2 separate regions of the Homo sapiens genome follow, and region 2 is linked to region 1. The links come from fine-mapping of genetic effects on gene expression. A gene starts in region 1. The other region holds a variant in brackets. All regions are shown on one strand. Distances are from middle to middle. Region 1 holds the start of RGS9 (regulator of G protein signaling 9). Region 2 overlaps RGS9 (regulator of G protein signaling 9).

What was found.
Region 2: its variant is fine-mapped to the expression of RGS9 in whole blood (TOPMed, PIP 0.99).

Annotation. Positions count from the first base shown.
Region 1 is chr17:65,133,402-65,143,267 of GRCh38, reverse strand. RGS9 (regulator of G protein signaling 9) reads right to left here and starts at 5,898. Exons shown (of 19, transcript NM_003835.4): 1 at 5,671-5,898. The coding sequence starts at 5,727. RefSeq lists a silencer at 5,709-6,208.
Region 2 is chr17:65,168,501-65,178,366 of GRCh38, reverse strand. RGS9 (regulator of G protein signaling 9) reads right to left here. Exons shown (of 19, transcript NM_003835.4): 9 at 564-635. It also overlaps the pseudogene ZNF848P. Among named protein-coding and RNA genes, the nearest start is that of RGS9, 36 kb to the right of the region's middle. RefSeq lists an enhancer at 4,624-5,417. The variant G/A (reference allele first, on the strand shown) is at 4,835.

The sequences.
Region 1 (9,866 bases):
TGGATCATTCTTTGGGGGTTGGTGAGGGCGGCTGTCCTGTGTGTTGTAGGATGTTTAGCAGCATTCATGTCCTCCACCCACTAGATGCCAGGAGCACCCCCAGTTATGACAACCTAAAATGTATTTAGACATTGCCAAATGTCCCCAGAGGCTCTCATCCTGACTGCACATTCAAACCACCTGGAAAACTTTTCAAAAAGAGCAATGGTTAAGCCTGGCATGATGGCAGGCACCTGTAAATGAAATTACTCAGGAAGCCAAGGTGAGAGGATCCCTTGAGCCCAGGAGCTTGAGTCCAGCCTGGGCAATATAGTGAAAACCCATCTCTAAAAAAAGAAATTGTTAAAAAAGAAAAAAAAAGAAAGAAAGAAACAAAAAGAAAACCAGGCCAGGCTTTGTGGTTTACACCTGCAATCCCAGCACTTTAGGAGGCAGGGCAGGTGGGGCACCTGAGGTCAGGAGTTTGAGACCAGCCTGACCAACATGGTGAAACCCCGTCTCTACTAAAAACACAAAAATTAGCCAGGCATGGTAGCAGGTCCCAGTATCCCCAGCTACTTGGGAGGCTGAGGCAGGAGAATCACTTGAACCCGGGAGGCAGAGGTTACCGTTAGCCGAGATCTCGCCACTGTACTCCAGCCTGAGCAACAGAGACAGGCTCTGTCTCAAAAACAAACAAAAAAAAAAAAAAAAGAAAGGAAGGGAGAAAAACAGTGGCATAAAAAGACCAATGCTTAAGCCTCACTTCCAGGCCAAGTAAATCAGAAACTCAAAGTAGAGTGAGTTGATATTAATGTTTTTTAAAGTGCAGCCCAGGTTGAGAATTACTCATTCCCTCTCACCAGAATCATCTTTCTAGCATATAAACCAACTCATCTTATTCATCCCTGATTTTAAAACGTCAAACAGCTTCTCATTAAACACAGAAGCCATCAAACTCTGTAGCATGACCTAGGAAGCCCTCCAGTTCTGGGCTTTTCTTTTTGTTTGTTTGTTTTTGGTTTTTGGTTTTTGGGTTTTTTTTGAGACTGAGTCTTGCTCTGTCACCCAGGCTGGAGTGCGGTGGCATGATCTCAGCTCACTGCAGCCTCCGCCTCCTGGGTTCAAGCAATTCTCCTGCCTCAGCCTCCCAAGTAGCTAGGATTACAGGCGCATGCCAGCATGCCTGGCTAATTTGTGTATTTTTGGTTTCACCATGTTAGCCAGGCTGGTCTTGAACTCCTGACCTAGTGATCCGTCCACCTCAGCCTCCCAAAGTACTGGGATTACAGGCATGTGCCACTGCACCCAGCAGATCTGGGCCTTTCTTACCTACCAGTCTTCTCCATCAACGCCAAACTCACTTCCTGTACACTTGGGGCCAGCTCTCCCAACCCGCAGGCAATCTCCCAAACCACCATGCTACTTCACATGTCCCTGTTTTGTATTGCCTAAAATGTCACTCATTTCCTCAACCTCCTGGCCAAAAACTACTGACTTTTTATAATTCGACTCCATTGCAAGCCCCCTTGTAAAATCTGTCCTGATCCCCCCTGACCCCAGGTAGAACTGACCACTCCCTGCTTGGTGTCACATGTATCCTCCAACAATGTCTGCCACAGCCTATGGAACACTTCTTGTCTCCTTGTTTATACATCTGTCTTTCTCCACTAGACTCTAAGCTCCTTGGTGCTCCCAGCACCTGGCACAGCATCTAGCCCATAAGTACCCAATTATATGTCTGTATTGAATGAAAGAATGTTACAAGCAAGAGATACCAAACTCGGCCTGGATATCCTCAATATTTCTGCTTCTGCATTCCTTTCTCAGGCAAAAAGAGATGCCAGAAGCCGCACAGGAAAACAAAGCTGTCACCAGAAGGCTTCTCCAAGAAAGTCCAAGAAATTCGCCCATGGTGAATCCCAAGGGCGGTGGTGGTACTGGCTGGGATGGTGATCTGGTAATTGCAGAGGGGAATGGGCCATCCCCAGAACAAGAGTCCATGGGTGCTGGAACCACAGGAGGCCACCCACCTGTGTTCATCTGTCCACTGTGTGCCATCAGCTAATTCCCCAGCAAAGCCATGAACAGATGGGCCTTCTGCCTCTTTCTACCACATCTGAAACGAGCCCAGGCATCAGAGGTGGGAAGCAGCATGGCCGGCGGGCATCCCGACCCACAGCTGCATTGAGACTGAGATGGAGGCATGGGTGTGAGAACCTCGGGAATCGCACACGGTCCTTTCTGACCAGTATGGCTCTCCATGGCCCCATGACAGTTGTCATTTCTCAAGAGGTTGGAGCTGCAGGGGCACAGGAGGATCCTGAGTGAACTCTCTTAGTTCAGGGAGAAGGCATTCCACCCATTCCTCTGGCTCACACCAGTGGTCCTTTTTTTTTTTTTAGACAGAGTCTCTCTCTGTCACACAGGCTAGAGTGTAGTGTAGTGGCAAGAACTTGTGAACTCAGTTACTGCAACCTCCACCTCCCGGGTTCAAGCAATTCTCCTGCCTCAGCCTCCCAAGTAGCTGGGATTACAGGTGCTCACCACCACGCCCTGCTAATTTTTATATTTTTAATAGTCAGAGGGTTTTGCCATGTTGGCCAGGCTGGTCTCAAACTCCTGATCTCAGATGATCCACCTACCTTGGCCTCCCAAACTGCTGGGATTACAGGCATGAGCCACTGCAACTGGCCCACCAGTGATCTTCTTAATTTGCAAATCTGCCATATCACTTGCCCATTCCAATTTCTATAGTGGCTCCGTATGAGATAAAACCAAACCTTTAAAAGGTCTTGAAGGCCCATAGGCACCCACTACCTCTGCCTTTCCTTTCCAGCTTCCCACTCCCCTTGCACTTCAAAATCCATCCATTACAGAACATGGCCCCAAACCCACTAGCTTTCCCATGCCTCTGTGCGTAAACTGTTCCCTCTGCCTGAAACATCTTTCCCTTTCTGCCTGGAAACCCTATGTATCCTTCAGGTCTCAGCTCTGTGTCCCTAAGCACACTGAGCCAGGCTTTCCCACAGCCTCCACACTCTGCCCTACGTCATGGGAAAGCTCAGGGCATTGCACCACAACTTGTGACAGACAACGACCACTCCTGTATTTCTTCTTGGTTTCACCACCTAGTGCTGCGTGACTGGCAAGCCGCTTAGCCTCTCTGAGCCTCAGCTTTCTTCTCTGTAAAATGGTGGCCATAACCTCCAGCTAATGAAATAGATGAGATAATGCACATAATGCCCACCCCTCCACACCATCATGGACACCGTGTACTTCATCACATGCATGGAACGAGTGATGAGTGACAGTTGCACCCAGGTCCACATTTTTTTGTTCCAGGCCCTTCTCCAGAAAGCTGAACATCGAATGTAGCTGGTTCTTCATTAAGGATCGCCTGGCATGGGCTCTTGAGACCTGTTCTGCAGACCTTTATTCTGTCTGCTGCTCCAAGGAGCTCTGTGACATGACCAATACATACATAGATATAGAGGATACATAGACAGGGCCCTTGCCAGCACAAGGTCTAGGGAAAGAGCAATGCTGGAGGTGTGGCAAGGTCTGTAGTGCACAGAGAAGGGAGCTGTCCTGCCCAGGGGCATTAGGAGAACCAGCCTTCACAGCCGAGGGGTGACTGAGCTGGGCATGGGAAGAGAAGTGGAGCTTGGCAAGCGAGAGGGGGAGAAAGGACTTTCCCAGCAGACGGACCCTGAGGCATGAAAGGGCACCGGGTTCCTAAAAAGGAAGGAAGTGTTTGAGGCAGGAGCCCAGGGGTGCCTGTGGCTGCTTTGTTGTTTCCCAGAGGGCAGGTGTGGAAGGCAGGCAGGAGGCAAAGCCAGGAAGATGGTGGGAGCGGAATCCTGGGTAACCAGGCTGCTCAGGGGAAGGTTGGACTTTATGCTGGGAATGTGGGAAGCCAGTGGAGCGTTTCAGGTCAAGGAGGTCACCATTGATTTGGGGGAAAAAAACAGTGTGTGTAGGAAAGCTGTCATGGAGGAGGGGAGACCGGGGTGGAAGATGGGGAGCTGGGATGCAGGAGGGGGAGGTTAGGGTAGAGGAGAGGTAAGTTAGGATGGAGGAGGAGAAGGCTGGGGAGGAGGAGGAGGATGGGGTAGAGGAAGGGGAAGACAGGGTGGAGGAAGAGGACCTGGGGTGGAGGAGGGAAAGGTGGGGTGGAGGGGGGAGAGCTGGGGTGGAGGAGGGGAGCTGGAATGGAGGAGGGAGAGGTTAGGGTGGAGGAAGGGAGACTAAGGTGGAGGAGGGAGAGTTTGGGTGGAGGAGGGGATGCTGGGGTGGAGGAGGGGATGCTGGGGTGGAGGAGGGGTGGCTGGGGAGGAGGAGGGAAGCCTGGGGTGGAGGAGAGAAACTAGAGACCAAGACACTAGTCAGAAGACCAAGGTAAGGAGAGGAGAATCTACCAGAGAAGAGTCATGATGGAAAAGAATGCCAGAGATTCAATAAACAAACTGAATTTATCTCTTGACAATTACCCTCTGAGCCCCCAAGCCAGAGCTGTCCTGCCTGGGAGGAGACAGTCCTAGGATAAATCCTGGAAGATGATGTGTGGCTTTGAGATAGCCGACTTAGGCAGTTTCTTCTGCTTTTAGTAACTGGTATCTGCAATACAGGCTCTCAGGGTTCTTTCTGAGTGAGACAACATTCAGCCTGTCTGCTTTACAGATGATACCCACACCTCTGCTACCCGGAAGATGAGCACGAGCATCTTGAAACAGGTGGACCAAATGCGACCGTCTCGGGGTCCCCAGGACTGTCCAGGTTTTAGCATTGAAAGTCCTGGGCAAATCAGGACAGCGGTCACTGACTATACAAATTTGCTGAGCTCCAGGGGCTCAGGGAGAGCTCAGCTTGTCACAAAACATTCAACTAATTCTACTCAACAAGATAAGCCTAAGAAGATGGACACTACGCTGTGAAAAGTGGCTACGGGTGGGAGGAAGGACAAAGATGTGACCCGGGACCTAATCCTCTGTAGATCTCATCGGACAGTGATTATACCAGAAGCTCAGAACTAAATGAACCACTTTGTCCCCAAACACATCACCCCACAGGTGCATTCCACCTCCCACATGTCCATCCTGTGTGCACACCCTGTGCCCGGTCACTTTGTCTGGGAAAGCATTCGCAAGGGAAGCGAAAAGGTTGGGACTTCTGCCGCCAGCGCAGACAGCAGGAGATGCACAGATAGACACACTCAAATGAGGGCTCTCAGGGCATTGTAAATGGGGTGGCCCTTTATCCTACAAATCACCCCGTTTTCATGGTCTATGTGTACACACACACACACTTTAAAATAGTGCAGTTTGGGATCAGAAAAAAAAGGCAAAAATGGCAATGTCACATCTGGTCGTCTTACAACAATATCAGCAGGCTGTCTCAAATCTGCCACAGCCTGAACTGAACCTGCCTCTCCCGAGTAACAGGTTGTTTTCACCTCCCGCAGACCATCAGCGCTGGCTTCAGATTCTCCACTACAGGCAGGGCACACGAAAACCTAATTATTATAGCCATCAATATCGACACACACAGCAAAGAAGTCACTTAATAAAATCGAGCAGCACAAATCGACCCAAAGGGGTGCTCTCCACTCCTGCCCCTCTTGTCCTCGGACGCTTCGCAGATGCGGTCCCCCGCCCTCCTCCCAGGGTCCAGGTGAGGGGCCAGGGTTACCTTTTGGAGAAATGCCATCCTCGGCCTGTACTGCTGGCCTTGGTGTCGGATTGTCATCCTGGCCCCTGGATGGATTCACAGCCAGAGCACCAGTGGGAGACAAGAGGAGAAGCCCCCCAAGTTCGAAAGGCAGCCTGGCTCGCCCCAGCCCTGGGCGTCGACGGGGAGGCGGCTGGGCGGGGAGGGCGCGGGCCGGGCCCCCCTGACTCTCACTAGGCGCCGCTGACTTGGAAAGCAGCTGGAATCCGCGCCAGCCAATCCGCGAGCGGCGCCGCGGGCTCATTAGCATGCGCTGCGCGGGCGCCCACCTGCCGCCAGGGGGCGCTATCCGGCCCCCGCCGGGACCCCGCGGAGCAGCAGGTGAGACCCGCAGGGCAGGGCCCCGGGAGGAGAAGGAGGAGGAGGACCTGGCGGGAGGAGGAGGAGGACCTAGCGGGAGGAGGAGGAGGACCTGTCGAGAGCAGCGAGCCTTTTAACTTGGGGCGGAGTTATGCACAGAAGTGACACAAAGAGCCCTCACTAATACAGCGCGGTGGAAAATACGGACTTTCCCATCCCAGCTCTGCCACTAACCAGCCGGCAGCCTTGGGCAAGTTCCTTACAATCTCTAAGAATCAATGTCCTTCACTCAAAAGTAAAAATTGAAAAATGGGATCATAATATCGACCAGAAAAGGTTGCTATACCATTTTAATGAGGAGATGTGTAACACAGTGCTTGGCCCTCAATAAATGCTTAGAAAAAAAAATTAGAGGTGGCGATTTAATGACCCAATAGCAGAGGAATTGCTAAGATGTGGGTTTAAAAAGAGAGAGCAAAGAAGTGAAGAAGGAAGAGAGGAAGGTTGTAGTCCTCACCGGGCTAGCTGTCTGGATGAAGCGAATTATATTTTACTTCTCTGATTCTTAGTGTTTCGGTTAGTTGGTTGTTGGGTTTGTTGTTGTTTAACTTTTTTTTTGAGACAGGGTCTTGCTCTGTCACCCAGGCTGGAGTGCAGTGGCGTAATCATGGCTCATTGCAGCTACAACCTCCCAGGCTCAAACAATCCTCCCACCTCAGCCTCCCCAGTAGCTGGGGCTACAGGCACGTGCCACCACACCCCGCTAATTTTTACAAAAATTGTTTGTGGAGAGGGAGTTTCACAAACTCCTGGGCTCAATCGATCTACCCACCTCGGCCTCCCAAAGTGCTGGAATTACAGGAGTGAGCCACTGCAGCTGGCTGGTTTGCTTGTTTTAATAGACTTTATTTCTTAGAGCAGTTTTAGGTTCACAGCACAATTGAGCGGAAGGTATAGGGACACGTCATATATCCCCTCTCCCCACGCACGCACAGCGTCCCCCATGATCAACATCCTCCACTGGAGTGGCCCATTTGTTACAATTGATGAACCTACCTTGACAGCTCATTATGTTAGCGTTTTCATCTTGAGAAAAATGCAAGGATGAAGCCTCTAAGTTATTATCAAGAGCCTTTCTGCTTTGTTATATAAAGCACTTTCTCTTAAACATACTCGATGGTTATTGAGTGTAGCAGATAAAATGTTTAAGTTGGAAGAAAACAAGAAGGCCTTTACCTTAGGAAGGCACAGTCAACCAATGTCCCTTTAAAGCAGTGGTTCTTGGCTGGGTGTGATGGCTCACGCCTATAATTCCAGCACTTTGGGAGGCCCAAGCGGGTGAATCACTTGAAGTCAGGAGTTCAAGACCAGCCTGGCCAACATGGCAAAACCCTATCTCTATTAAAAATACAGAAATCAATCAGCATGGTGGAGCAACCTGTAATCCCAGCTACTCAGGAGGCTGAGGCACAAGAATCACTTGAACCCAGAGGCTGCAGTGAGCCAAGACTGAGCCACTGCATTCCAGCCTGGGTGACAGAGTGAGACTCTGTCTCAAAAAAAAAAAAAAGCAGTGGTTCTTATCCATTCTCTCGGGTGATATTTACCTGTAAGAATCTGATGAAAGCTATGGACACTCAGGAACACACACACATGCACATGTACACAACACTGACTGAAGTTTGCAAACAATTTCAAGAGGTTCATGCTTGGGCCTCTCTTGTGCCTTTTCAGGAATCCCTGATTCAGAGCCTCCAATTTAGAGGACGCTGGACCCTGCAGAGATCCATCCAAGCAGAAGACCAGAGATCCTGCCAAGCAAATTGAACCACTGAGAAGTATGCTCCTGGTGTGAGCTGAGATCCAAAGAAAATGCTGGAATATCTTGATTTTTTTTCTCATGAAGCATCTTTTGAGCCTGGTGTGAGTTTAAATCCAAAGAAAATGCTGGAATATCTTGATTTTTTTTCTCATGAAGCATCTTTTGAGCCTAGTGTTATACAGAGCACATGCTGGGATCTGACCAAGATGAGCTATGAAGTTCCTTCCAGCTTCAACATCCCTTGTCTCTAGAAACCCTAAGCATCAAGAAGATAAGTGGCTTTCCTAAAATGAAGGATGAGAAAAATTATTCAGGAGCAAAGAGAGGCAAAAATAAAAGGCACTTTGCTCATTAATAGAATAGGAGAGGCCTCAGTGCCTGCCACTCTCCTCCCCACCCCTTCTGTCAGGCCCTGCTCTCCAAGCAACTACATTTTGTGGGACCCATCTTTGCTCATTGGACCAGAGGCCAGTTCCCCACATGATAGGACCATGATGTGGATCTGAAAAACGGAGAGGAGCTTGTTAGATTATTACCTTCACAAATGCCAACTTGAGTCAGATAAAGTCAGGGCCACAGGAAGCTGAGACCAAATGCAAGCTGAAGTTATGAGGAAGGAGAAATGAAAGGTGAGCAGAGGAAGCTGATCAGAAAAGGGAGGCAAACAGGCTGGGCGCGGAGGCTCACGCCTGTAATCCCAGCACTTTGGGGGGCCGAAGCGGGCGGATCACCTGAGGTCAGGAGTTCGAGACCAGCATGGTCAACATGGCGAAACCCCATCTCTACTAAAAATACAAAAAAATTAGCCGGGCATGCTGGCGCATGCCTGTAATCCCAGCTACTCGAGAAGCTGAGGCAGGAGAATCGCTTGAACCTGGGAGGCAGAGGTTGCATTGAGCTGAGATTTGCACTCCAGCCTGGGCAATAGAGCGAGACTCTGTCTCAAAAAATATACATATAAAAGAAAAGAAAAAAAGGGAAGCAACAAGCTGAACAGAGAGCAGCAGAGGGGCCATGACACAGACAAGCCCCTCGGACTAAGTTGGGTCAGTGCCTTACCAAGGGCAAGGGTATCTTCTGGAATCCTCCCACATATCTGAGTCTTTGTTTCTTGCAACTGAAAGAGCCTGTCATATAATATGGTATTCAAAGTTTCATGCCAGTGTCCTAGGGGAAAAAATTGATTTAATTCATCGATTTATTTAATCAACAAACATATTGTTTGCCAGCCATTTTGCTAGAGTCTGGAATTCAAAGCAGAATATGACTCAGTCCTTTCTATGAGAATAAGACCAGAAAAATACAAATATAAAAAAGAAAAAAAGAATATGACCCAGTTCCTGTCTCAAAGAGCTCAGAGTTTAAAGTGGAAAAAGAATATTTAGACAAAAATGTTATAAAATAAAATCTATGTGTGATGAAGATGTAGTCAATGCAATACAGGATTTTGTGGAAAGGCACCTCACCCATCCTGAATGGAAGAGAAGATCAGGAAGGCTTCCTGGAAGAGGAGTCTTAAAAGAAGATAGGAAGTTAACCAGGTGTAGGGGCAAGCTAAGTTTCCTCACAGGGAACAGCACAAGAAAAGGTGCAGAGGCAAGGATTAGCATAATTTGAGGGTGGTGACTAGGAGTTTGTTGGACACAAGGTCAAGAAGTTTAGAGGGGTCGGGCATGGTGACTCATGCTTGTAATCCCAGCACTTTGGGGGGCCGAGGCGGGAGAATCACCTGAGATCAGGAGTTTGAGACCAGCCTGGCCAACATGGTGAAACCCCTGTCTCTACCAAAAATACAAAAAATAGCTGGATGTGGTGGCAGGCACCTGTAATCCCAGCTACTTGGGAGGCTGAATGAGGCAGGAGAATCACTTGAACCCGGGAGGCCAAGGTAAGCCGAGATCACACCACTGCACTCCAGCCTGGGCGACAGAGCGAGAATCTATCTCAAAAAGAAAAGAAAAGAAAAGAAATTTGGAGGGTTTGGGTCAGGGATTAAATGGAAAGGGACATAAACCTTTTAATTGAGGTAAAGTTT
Region 2 (9,866 bases), 35 kb before region 1:
GAAAGATGGCCTATTTGAGGAAAGGTATTTTTTTTTAATGAAACCTGCTTGGAGAATCTTTACAAAGATCCCACTCCACTGGGATGTGAAAGAAAGTGTTAGATTCCAGGTCCTGTCATGTGGATTAAGGTTAAATCTAAAACTGATTCAAGAGTTTCGAGGCTGGGGTCTACAGTCTCCTCAGGATCAAGGAACTGGCTGAAACTGTGTACAGAATGTCTGTCTGTGCATCTTTGAGTGGAATGAGCTCATAACTTTCATCAGATTTTCGAAGGGGGAAGTGACTCAGAAAAGTTTGAAAACCAGCCATCTAGATCCCATTAGCTCTTCCCTGCACTCTACAGCCTCTGTCTGTCTTCAGTCGTAATTTCTTCTCACCTAGCATCCTGCCATGGTCCCACTTCTCCCCTAACCCTGAGTCCACAGAGCCCACGGTCCTCCTCTCTTTGATAGTCTCAAAGAGGAGATATCGTTGCCCTAACAGACACGAATAGACATGTGGACACCTTCCCAGCCCCAGAATCCGACCTAGGCCCTACCCAAACTATGCAGCAGAGACATACCTGGTTTACCTTGACTTCATTCGGATTGGTCACTCGGTCCAGGCCGTAGTCCAGCACATTGTCCATTCCAGGCTAAATGGAATAAAAACAACATAAGGTCATTACAGGGAGAGTCTCCAGTTTCTGGTTAACTGTGGGTCTTGGTTAATCTGCCAATTGTGAGATTGAGCTGAGAAGAGCTTGTGGCCTAGCCCATGGGAAGCTTTGAGTGGGTGTAAACCCTCCAGGTGAGCTGTTGAGCTTCATGAGGGCTGTTATGCCTCCCAGTATCCCCAGCACCTAACATAGTGAGATGGAAGGATGGAGGGAGAGAAGGATGGGTAGATGCGTGGGTGGGTGGATGGATGGAAAAATGGACAGGTGGTTGGCATCCCCAGCACCATAGTGGGATGCATGGATAAGTGGATGGATGAATAGGTAAATGGGTGGCGGGTAGATGGTTGATGGGTGGGTGAGTGGATGGATGGATGGATGGATGGCCAGACAGATGAATGGCATTCCCAGCACCAGAGTTGGATGGGTGGCAGGAAAGAGGGAAGGAGAGGGGGATGGGTGGATGGATGAATGAATAGGTAAATGGGTGGTAGGTGGATGGTGGGTGGGTGAATAAACGGATGGATGGATGGGTGGATGGATGGATGGATGGATGGACGGACAGATAAATGGCATCCCCAGCACCATAGTGAGATGGATGAATGGAGGGATGGAAGGATGGATGGATGGATGGATGGATGGATGGATGGATGGACAAACAAATGAATGGCATCCCCAGCACCATAGTGAGATGGATGGATGAAGGAATGGAATGGTGTACGAATGGATGGAGGAAGGGAAGGAGGGATGGATGGATGAATGGGTGGTAGGTGGATGGTGAGTGGATGGGTGAAGAGATGGATGGATGGATGGATGGATGGATGGACAGATGAATGGCAAACTCAGCACCATAGTGGGATGTATAGATGGAGGGATGGATGCATGGATGAATGGGTAAATTTGTGGTAGATGGATGGTGAATGGATAGGTGAAGAGATAGACGGATGGGTGGATGGGTGGATGGATGGATGGATGGATGGATGGATGGATGGATGGATGGTTGAGTGAGTAGATGGATGGATGAGTGAGTGGGCATATGGATGGGTAACATTCAGGCTCCAAAAGAGTTCACTGAGACTAATACATGGGCTTCCTGACTCTTCCCACAGTGCTCCTTCCCCACACTCTGTGGTTTCATCTTGGGCTTGGCGGGAAAAGTGAAGTGACAGAGCAGTGCTTTGGGAAAGTCCAGGCTTGTCAGGCACGTCTGGGTGCCACTCCTGGTTCTGCCACTTCCCAGCTGTGCAGAAGATCTTGGAAAACACTCCTTGTCTTGGCACTCACTAACCTCTCTAAGAAACAGAGAAGAATCCTCCTACGTGGCAGGTTCTTGTGAAGATTTAACAAGATAGGGTGTGAAGCTCTCCACAGAAGGTAGCTATTGCTGAGCAAGGGGTTGTATTCATTTTAAGATTACATATGTAAAAGAATGGCCCAAAACTGGGACTGTAATCTCTGTTAGTTCCCTTTGCCAGCAGGTAACCCAGCTCTCCAGAAAATCTTACTTGGTCTCTCTCAACTCCTTGACTCTTTGAGACCAATAATTTGGGTCTTTCACTTCCCCTGATGCAGGTGTGATGCCAGGCATCCACCCATTGCTCAGCACATGTGACCAACCAGGTTGGCTACACTGAAGCAGAGAGTTGGGAAGCAACTGGGCTTTCTTGCCATCAAATTCAGCCTCATCCATGGGATCAGACTGGGTTTTAGCTCAGATGTAAGACTGCCAGATAAAATGTAGGAAGCCCAGTTAATTTAAGATAAATGGCAAATAATTTCTGTCCCAATATTTTGATGCTTATTATATATTTATACTAAATATACAAAATACATTTTACATAAAAATTATTTGTTGTTTATCTGAAATTCAAATTCAACCAAATTTCCTGTATTTTATTTGCTAAATCTAGCAACCTAGCTCACCGGGCTACCATGGAGGCAAATATGTGCAGACAAGACGACACAGGGAAGAGAAAGGAAAAGGCAATAGAAAGTGGGTGGGGAGGAGGACAGGGAAAGGGAATGGCCATCCTTACCCTAGTTGTTACAAGTGGATCTTGATCAGCAAATATCTATGGGGCACTTCTTATGTGCCGGACATTGTGCTGAGCCCTGGGGAGCCCATGGTGAGTGTGCCCCGAGACCACTGCTCCCCAGCAGGCATTACTGAGGCACTCCCAGTCTCAAGGGGGAGGTAGCCACTCAGCAATTAATCACACAAAGGATAAATTAGAGTTGAGACAGGTGTCTTGAAGGGATAACACCATGGGATCTAACCTCACATGGCAGGGGCTCAGCAGAGTCAGTGCCTTTGCCAAAAAGGGTTCTAGGAGTTGCCCCCTGAATCTGGTATGGAGAAATCCCCCTGCATAACTGAAGGCAGACTTCATACACACACTTTGGCACGTTCACACACTCTCACACTCACACTCACACACCCACACACTCTCATACATACATATGCACACTCACACATGCTCACATACATACATGCCCTGACACACTGGCACACTCACACACGCATGCTCACATACATGCACACACCTACACATACTCCCACATGTACATATGCACACTCACACACACTCACATACACACATGTCCTGACACACACACACACACACACATTAATATGGTTTGGTTCTGTGTTCCCACCCAAATATCATCTTGAACTGTAATCTCCATAATCCCCAGGGATTGAGGGAGAGACCTGGTGGGAGGTGACTGGATTATGGGGGTGGTGTCCCCCATGCTGTTCTCATGATAGTGAGTTCTCATGAGATCTGATGGTTTTATAAGTGTCTGACAGTTCCTCTTTCACATACTCGCTCTCTCTCGCCTGCCACCATGTCAGATGTGCCTTTTCCCGTTCCGCCATGATTGTAAGTTTCCTGAGACTTCCCCAGCCATGCAGAACTGTGAGTCAATTAAACCTCTTTCCTTTATAAATTACCCAGTCTTGCGTATTTCTTTATAACACTATGAGAATGAATACACAAAAACATGCTCACATACATGCACACACATATGCATGCTCACACATAACACATTCACACACTCACACACGTGCATACTGACACATATATGTTTACATGCATGCACAAACCTAGGCACACTCACATATACATATGCACACTCACACTCACATACATGCTCACTTACATGTACACATCTACACACTCTCACACATACATACATATTCTCACATACATGCACACCTTGACACGCCAACACACTGACATACATGCTCACACACATGCACACATGTACACACACTCGCACACATACATTCACACACTCACTCACATACATGCACACCCAGACATACTGACATGCACTCACACTCACACACAGCCTGTGCTCATGATGCCCTACAACCAGTGTCTGGCTGCTATTCCACAGGCGCTCACTGCCTCGGTGACTTCGGTGTGGTCATCTGCTCAAGTCTTGAATTCGTTATCTAGTTCTTTCCTTCCAATGTGCCCCAGGCTCTGATATAAATTTGGTTGCCCCAGTGCTCAACAGTGCACTGCATAACTGAGATAGAGTCCTCTATGCCCTCAGCTGCCCAGACCAGACGGCCTTAGACTCTCAGACCTGCAGCCACCCACTGGGCTTCATGATTCTGCCAGCCTGTCCAGTTCCAGCCCCAACCTGGCTCTCCATGCCTTCCCTACAGAACAGCCAGGCACAGTCCTCTGGCCACTGCTGCCTCGGCTCTTGCACCTCTGTGGGCAGCAGCCCTTAAGTCTCAGTTGTTCCCAATCAAGCTGTGGTCCTTTTCCAGTTCCCTGCCCTCGAAACTGGTGAGAGGGCTGCCTTTCTGCCTCTGCTGGTTTCAGAGACTCCCAAGCTCCTTTCATTCATCCATTTCTTCATTCATCAGGTAGTGTAAAGTCTTTGACCCACTATGATCATCACCAGAGTGCTGCTGACACAGTTTCTGGCACATAACAGGGTGTTCAGATGAAGTTAACCAGAACTGACTGTCAGCGCCCAGGAAATAAGGGCAGCCGATGCATCCTGCGGTGTGTGGCCCGCAGATAAGGAGGCAGCAGGCACTTTCTGCCCTGGTGCCTCATGCAGGAAGCCTTCAGAGACATGCAAGCTCCCCTCCTCCACCCTGAGGAACTGTGAACACCAGGGTATGACCCCGCCCCCCACAAACAACATCCCTT[G/A]GGTGTAAGCCAAAGAGGCAATTTGCTCAATGCATCATCATTCAGGTCAGGAAAGGAGCTCCTGTACTCGTGACAACTGCTCGTGAGGAGGCGATGTTCCCAGGAACCCACATACAGAGCAAGGCCAGCGTGGAGCTGACGGACACTTCTCGGTGGTACTCCACCGTGTCCCCCTGCCCCTCCTTCTCTCAGCTTCACTCTCTTCCCAAAAATATCAGACTCTTCTGGTGCATGGAACAGAAAACAAATACTAAGTAAAACACTAACTCGTTTTCTAAACAAAATAAGACAGGGGAAAGAAATAGAGATGAGGCCAGGCGCGGTGGCTCATGCCTGTAATCCCAGCACTTTGAAAGCCTGAGGCCGGCAGATCATGAGGTCAGGAGTTCGAGACCAGCCTGGCCAACACAGTGAAAACCCATCTCTACTAAAGATACAAAAAATTAGCCAGGCGAGGTGGCGCACACCTGTAATTCCAGCTACTCGGCAGGCTGAGGCAGGAGAATCGCTGGAACCCAGGAGGCGAAGGTTGCAGTGAGCTGAGATCACGCCATTGCACTCCAGCCTGGGCAATAGGGCAACACTCCATCTCAAAAAAAAAAGAAAGAAAGAAAGAAAGAAAAAAGAAATAGAGATGAGGTGAAACAGGGAGACAATTTTATGTTGCTGTGTTAGGAAAGTCAGCTCCTAGAGGATCTTGGCTTGAATGTCACTCTCCACGTCCTGTGTCCTGTGTTCCCTGACCCCCAACCGGACGCAGAGCCCCTGCCTCCTACCAGCTGCCATGGCATTCTGCTTGTTACTCATTCATTGGTTTAATCATTTTAGTCTTTGTCTCTCCACCAGACTGCAAGAAACTCCTTGAGGTCACGGGCAATGTCTGTCTTGGCTCATAATCCAAATATCCCCAATGCCTAGTAAGCACCCGGCATAGAGCAGATATTCACAAAATATATGTTAATTTTTTTTATTTTTTATTTTTGGACCATGGCACATGGAGCATTCCACCCACCCTGGTTTTATAATATAACATTATGTGTCAGGCCGCCACAGTGGCTCATGCCTGGAATCCTAGCACTTTGGGAGGCCAAGGTAGAGTCAGGAGTTCGAGACCAGCCTGGCCAACATGGTGAAACCGCCGTCTCTACTAAAAATACAAAAATTAGCCAGGTGTGGTGGCAGGCGCCTGTAATTCCAGCTACTCAGGAGGCTGATTCAGGAGAATTGCTTGAACCCAAGAGGCAGAGGTTGCAGTGAGCCAAGACCATGCCACTGCACCCCAGAGCGAGACTCTGTCTCAAAAACAAACAAAAAACAACAAACAAACAAAAAACACATTGTATGTCAGATCATTTTCCTAGATCAATGAATGGCCTTTGAAAATATTATTTGAATAGCTTCACAATGTTCCATCATGTTAATATACCTCAATTTATTTTGCCATTTTCCATTGTTGGACATTTAGCCTAACTTCGATGGGAAATGGAGGGCAGACATCTCTGGCAAGTGTCTGCATATGTGGTTGAAACAAGGGTCATTTAGCTTGATAAGCAGATAAGCACACCCACCGCCAGGAAGCAGCCTCAGACTACATCCTTGGGAGGCAGGAAGTCACAGATGGCACAGCAAAGATGCAGGGAAGGCCTCCACATGCCTGTCTAAGGGAGCACTTTCTCCCTTTGTTCATTTACAAAACTCACTGTTGTTTGCATCGTGCTCAGATCTGTACTTGGTTCCATTTGAGTAAAAAACAGGTGAGAAACATCGTTTTCCTTCATTACAGGATGCTGAATCACAGGTGTCCTTTGGGCTCTGGGTAGGAATTCAGGTCAGAGCCCTCAACTACCACCACCCACGTGGGGTCTTGGCCTTTGCCAGTGATGATCTCCCTGAAACACCATCTATCAGACATTTCTCCCTGCCTTTCTAAATCAATCACCCTCTCGCTGTGCCCCTTCTGCAATTAGGTCTTATCTCTGGGAGAGTGTCACTCACCTGTGCTCCAGCAATTTGGATTTTGAGCTCCTTGAGCTGAGAGAGGGACCACGGGTGGGGCCTCCTTGCACAGAAGCAGAATATCGGGCTTTACCATCAGAAAGATGTGGCTTCCTCTCCCAGAACTGAGCAGGCTACTGAACCTCTATGAGCCTCAATTTCTCCATCTGAATAACGGGGATGGTGATATTCCCTACATCATAGCATCAGGCGTCAATGAGGTCATCTGTGCCAAGAGCTTAACACAGGTTCAGAGGAGTACTCAATGACTCTTGGCTGTTATTTCACACCCAGCACCTAACCCCTTCCCTGGGACAAAGTCAAGGCTCAACGAAGATTTCATGGATCAATGAACAGACAAATGAACAAGTGAATGAGTCGGTTCAGTAACAGCAGGCCACGTCTCACTCTACAACTGTTGGTTACAGTCTGACACGGAGTGGCCGCGACACTCCACGGCGCCAAGTGCTTTGTTTGCCTTGGCTGGCTTTTTTCCCATTGAACTGACGGTTTGTTTGGGTCTCCTGGAGACAGTCTGGCAGCCTGTGAGCTCCGGGGCTTCCTGAGCCTGTCAGTCAGATTGCTCAATTTCTAGACTGAGATGCTCTTCAAAAACACTACCTTCCACCCCCACAGGCCAACAAGAGATGGGGAGAATTTTAAGAAAATCACAGAGAGTGGGGCCACTGCACTCTCCTGCCTCATCTTTGACTACTGGTCTGGTTTTCACTCAGGGAGCAGCCATGAAAGAGGTTAGATGTGGGGAGCAGTTTTTAGTCCTGGAAGTTCTAGGACCACTCTGAGTCCATCAAAGCCTCATGCTGAACTTGGGTCCCCAGTGCTGTCAAAGAAGGACCAGGCACGTGTAAACCCAGGCATTCGGCTTCTTAGAGCAGCAGTGACCCAGGCAACGTTCTAATGACCGAGGAGGTTACCAAAGGACTGAACTGTACCAAGATATCACATGACATTGTCATGAGAGGCAGAAGTGCACAGGGCTAAGGTGCAGGGGTTGGTGCTCCACAGTCAGTGGTATGTGGGTTCAGACCCTCTGGCACTAACTAGCTGTGTAACTTTGGGCAAATTAGCAGCATCCTTGAGCTTTCACTTGCTTATCAGTACAATGAGAATAATAATAAACCCTTCCACACAGGGCTGCAAAGGTTCAATAAGAATGCAGAAGGCGGCCAGGCGCGGTGGCTCACGCCTGTAATCCCAGCACTTTGGGAGGCCGAGGCAGGCAGATCACGAGGTCAGGAGTTCAAGACTAGGCTGACCAACATGGTGAAACCCCATCTCTACTAAAAATGCCAAAATTAGCCGGACATGGTGGTGCATGCCTGTAATCCTAGCTACTCAGGAGGCTGAGGCAGTAGAATTGGTTGAACCTGGGAGGCAGAGGTTGCAGTGAGCCGAAATCGTGCCATTGCACTCCAGCCTGGGTGACAGAGCAAGGCTCCATCTCAGAAAAAAAAAAAAAAAAAAAAAAGAATGCAGAAGGCTTAGCACAGTGCCCAGCACACTGGGAGTTCTCAGTTCATGTCTACTGTGATGGTGACGGTGACAGTGACCACAGTGATGAAGACAATAAGGGTGGTGGAGGTGGTGGAGAAAGTGGGGGAAATAAGAGAGGTGGTAGAGGTCAGGGAGATAAAGGAGGTGAGGGAGTGGGAGGTGGGATGACGGTCATGGTGGTGGAGATGGGCTGGGGGGGAGGCAGTGGTCATAGAGACACATGGTCATATTTATGTGATTCAGCATCATCCTGTGAAGAGCCACTCAGCCACTAGCCTGGTGGGGGCTGAGAACTTACCCCAGAAGAACTGAGAAGAACCCGGATGATCAATTTTTCATGTTAATGCATAGCTAGTCTATGTCACTTTGCAAGGAATGTAGTCACATAGGCATTCGCACAGTGAGGAGTCTCTGCACATAATATAGAAGCCGTTCTTTACCTACCCTCAGGTATGGTGCCACTGGGCACCAAGGTGTCTTGCCAAATGTGGCATATCCGCCATGTCTCCTTATCCTCACCACAGAGTGCTTCTGGAACACACGAGCAATGTGAGGCTCCTTCTCATACAAAGAGTTTCTTCGCTACCAACCAGGAGGGGTGCTTATCTCTGGGACCCTGTGCTCTGTCACCCGGCCCCCAGATACCTGCGTCAGGCATCTGTAAACTGGTTTCCCTAGAGGAGAAACCCTGAAGCAAAGAAAAAATCAAACAAGCTGTTTGGGATCAACCTCAGCACCTTAACCTCAGCAACACAGCATCCAAACCCATGCCGCTACAGAGTGGAACACCTTAGGAGAATCTGTTTTCAGTATATAAAGAATATAAGCAAAACAGCCAAAATCGGATGGGCTTGAAACTCAAAAATCCATAAACTCTGACACCAGGCCTCACTCAGTTCTCCTTCTGCTTCTGAGAATTTCTGATACCTGGCAGGCAAGGAAGCTAAAGGAAGAGGAGGAAGAACATTTCTTTCTAACTCTTCGGTTTCCAGAATCTCATTCACATCTCCTACCTCCCATGACCCATAGGCAGCACAGGGAGCTGTACAGGAGGAAACTGAGGTAGCAGAGTTAATCCCAGTATGTAGCAGTCAGACCCCACTTCTGTGTGCTGGGGAATGAGGCTACCATTTCCCAGTGATGAGCTGGGGCAAGTTACACCAGCTCTGTACAGCTTGTCCCTCTGGGCCACTGAAGTCCCAAAGCCAGAGATTCAGTGTGCTCCAAGCAAGGAGAAGCTCAACACAGACGTATTCCTTCTCCTTCTCCCATCTCAGCTGCTGGGAACTGGATCTAGGAGAGGAAAAAGTGAGGGAGCTAGAGACACCAAGGAGAACTTTGGCCAAGCAGTTTCCATTCTCACGGGACTCTATTTTTCTGCATTGGCGCCTCCATTGGGGCCTACGTTCTAATTTTTTCTCCTTATATTCCTTTCCCAAGGTATGATATCCTAGCAAAAAAAAAAAAAAAAAAAAAAGTCCCAGCCCTCGTAAAAGACAAATTCATTCAGGTCCCTCCCTAC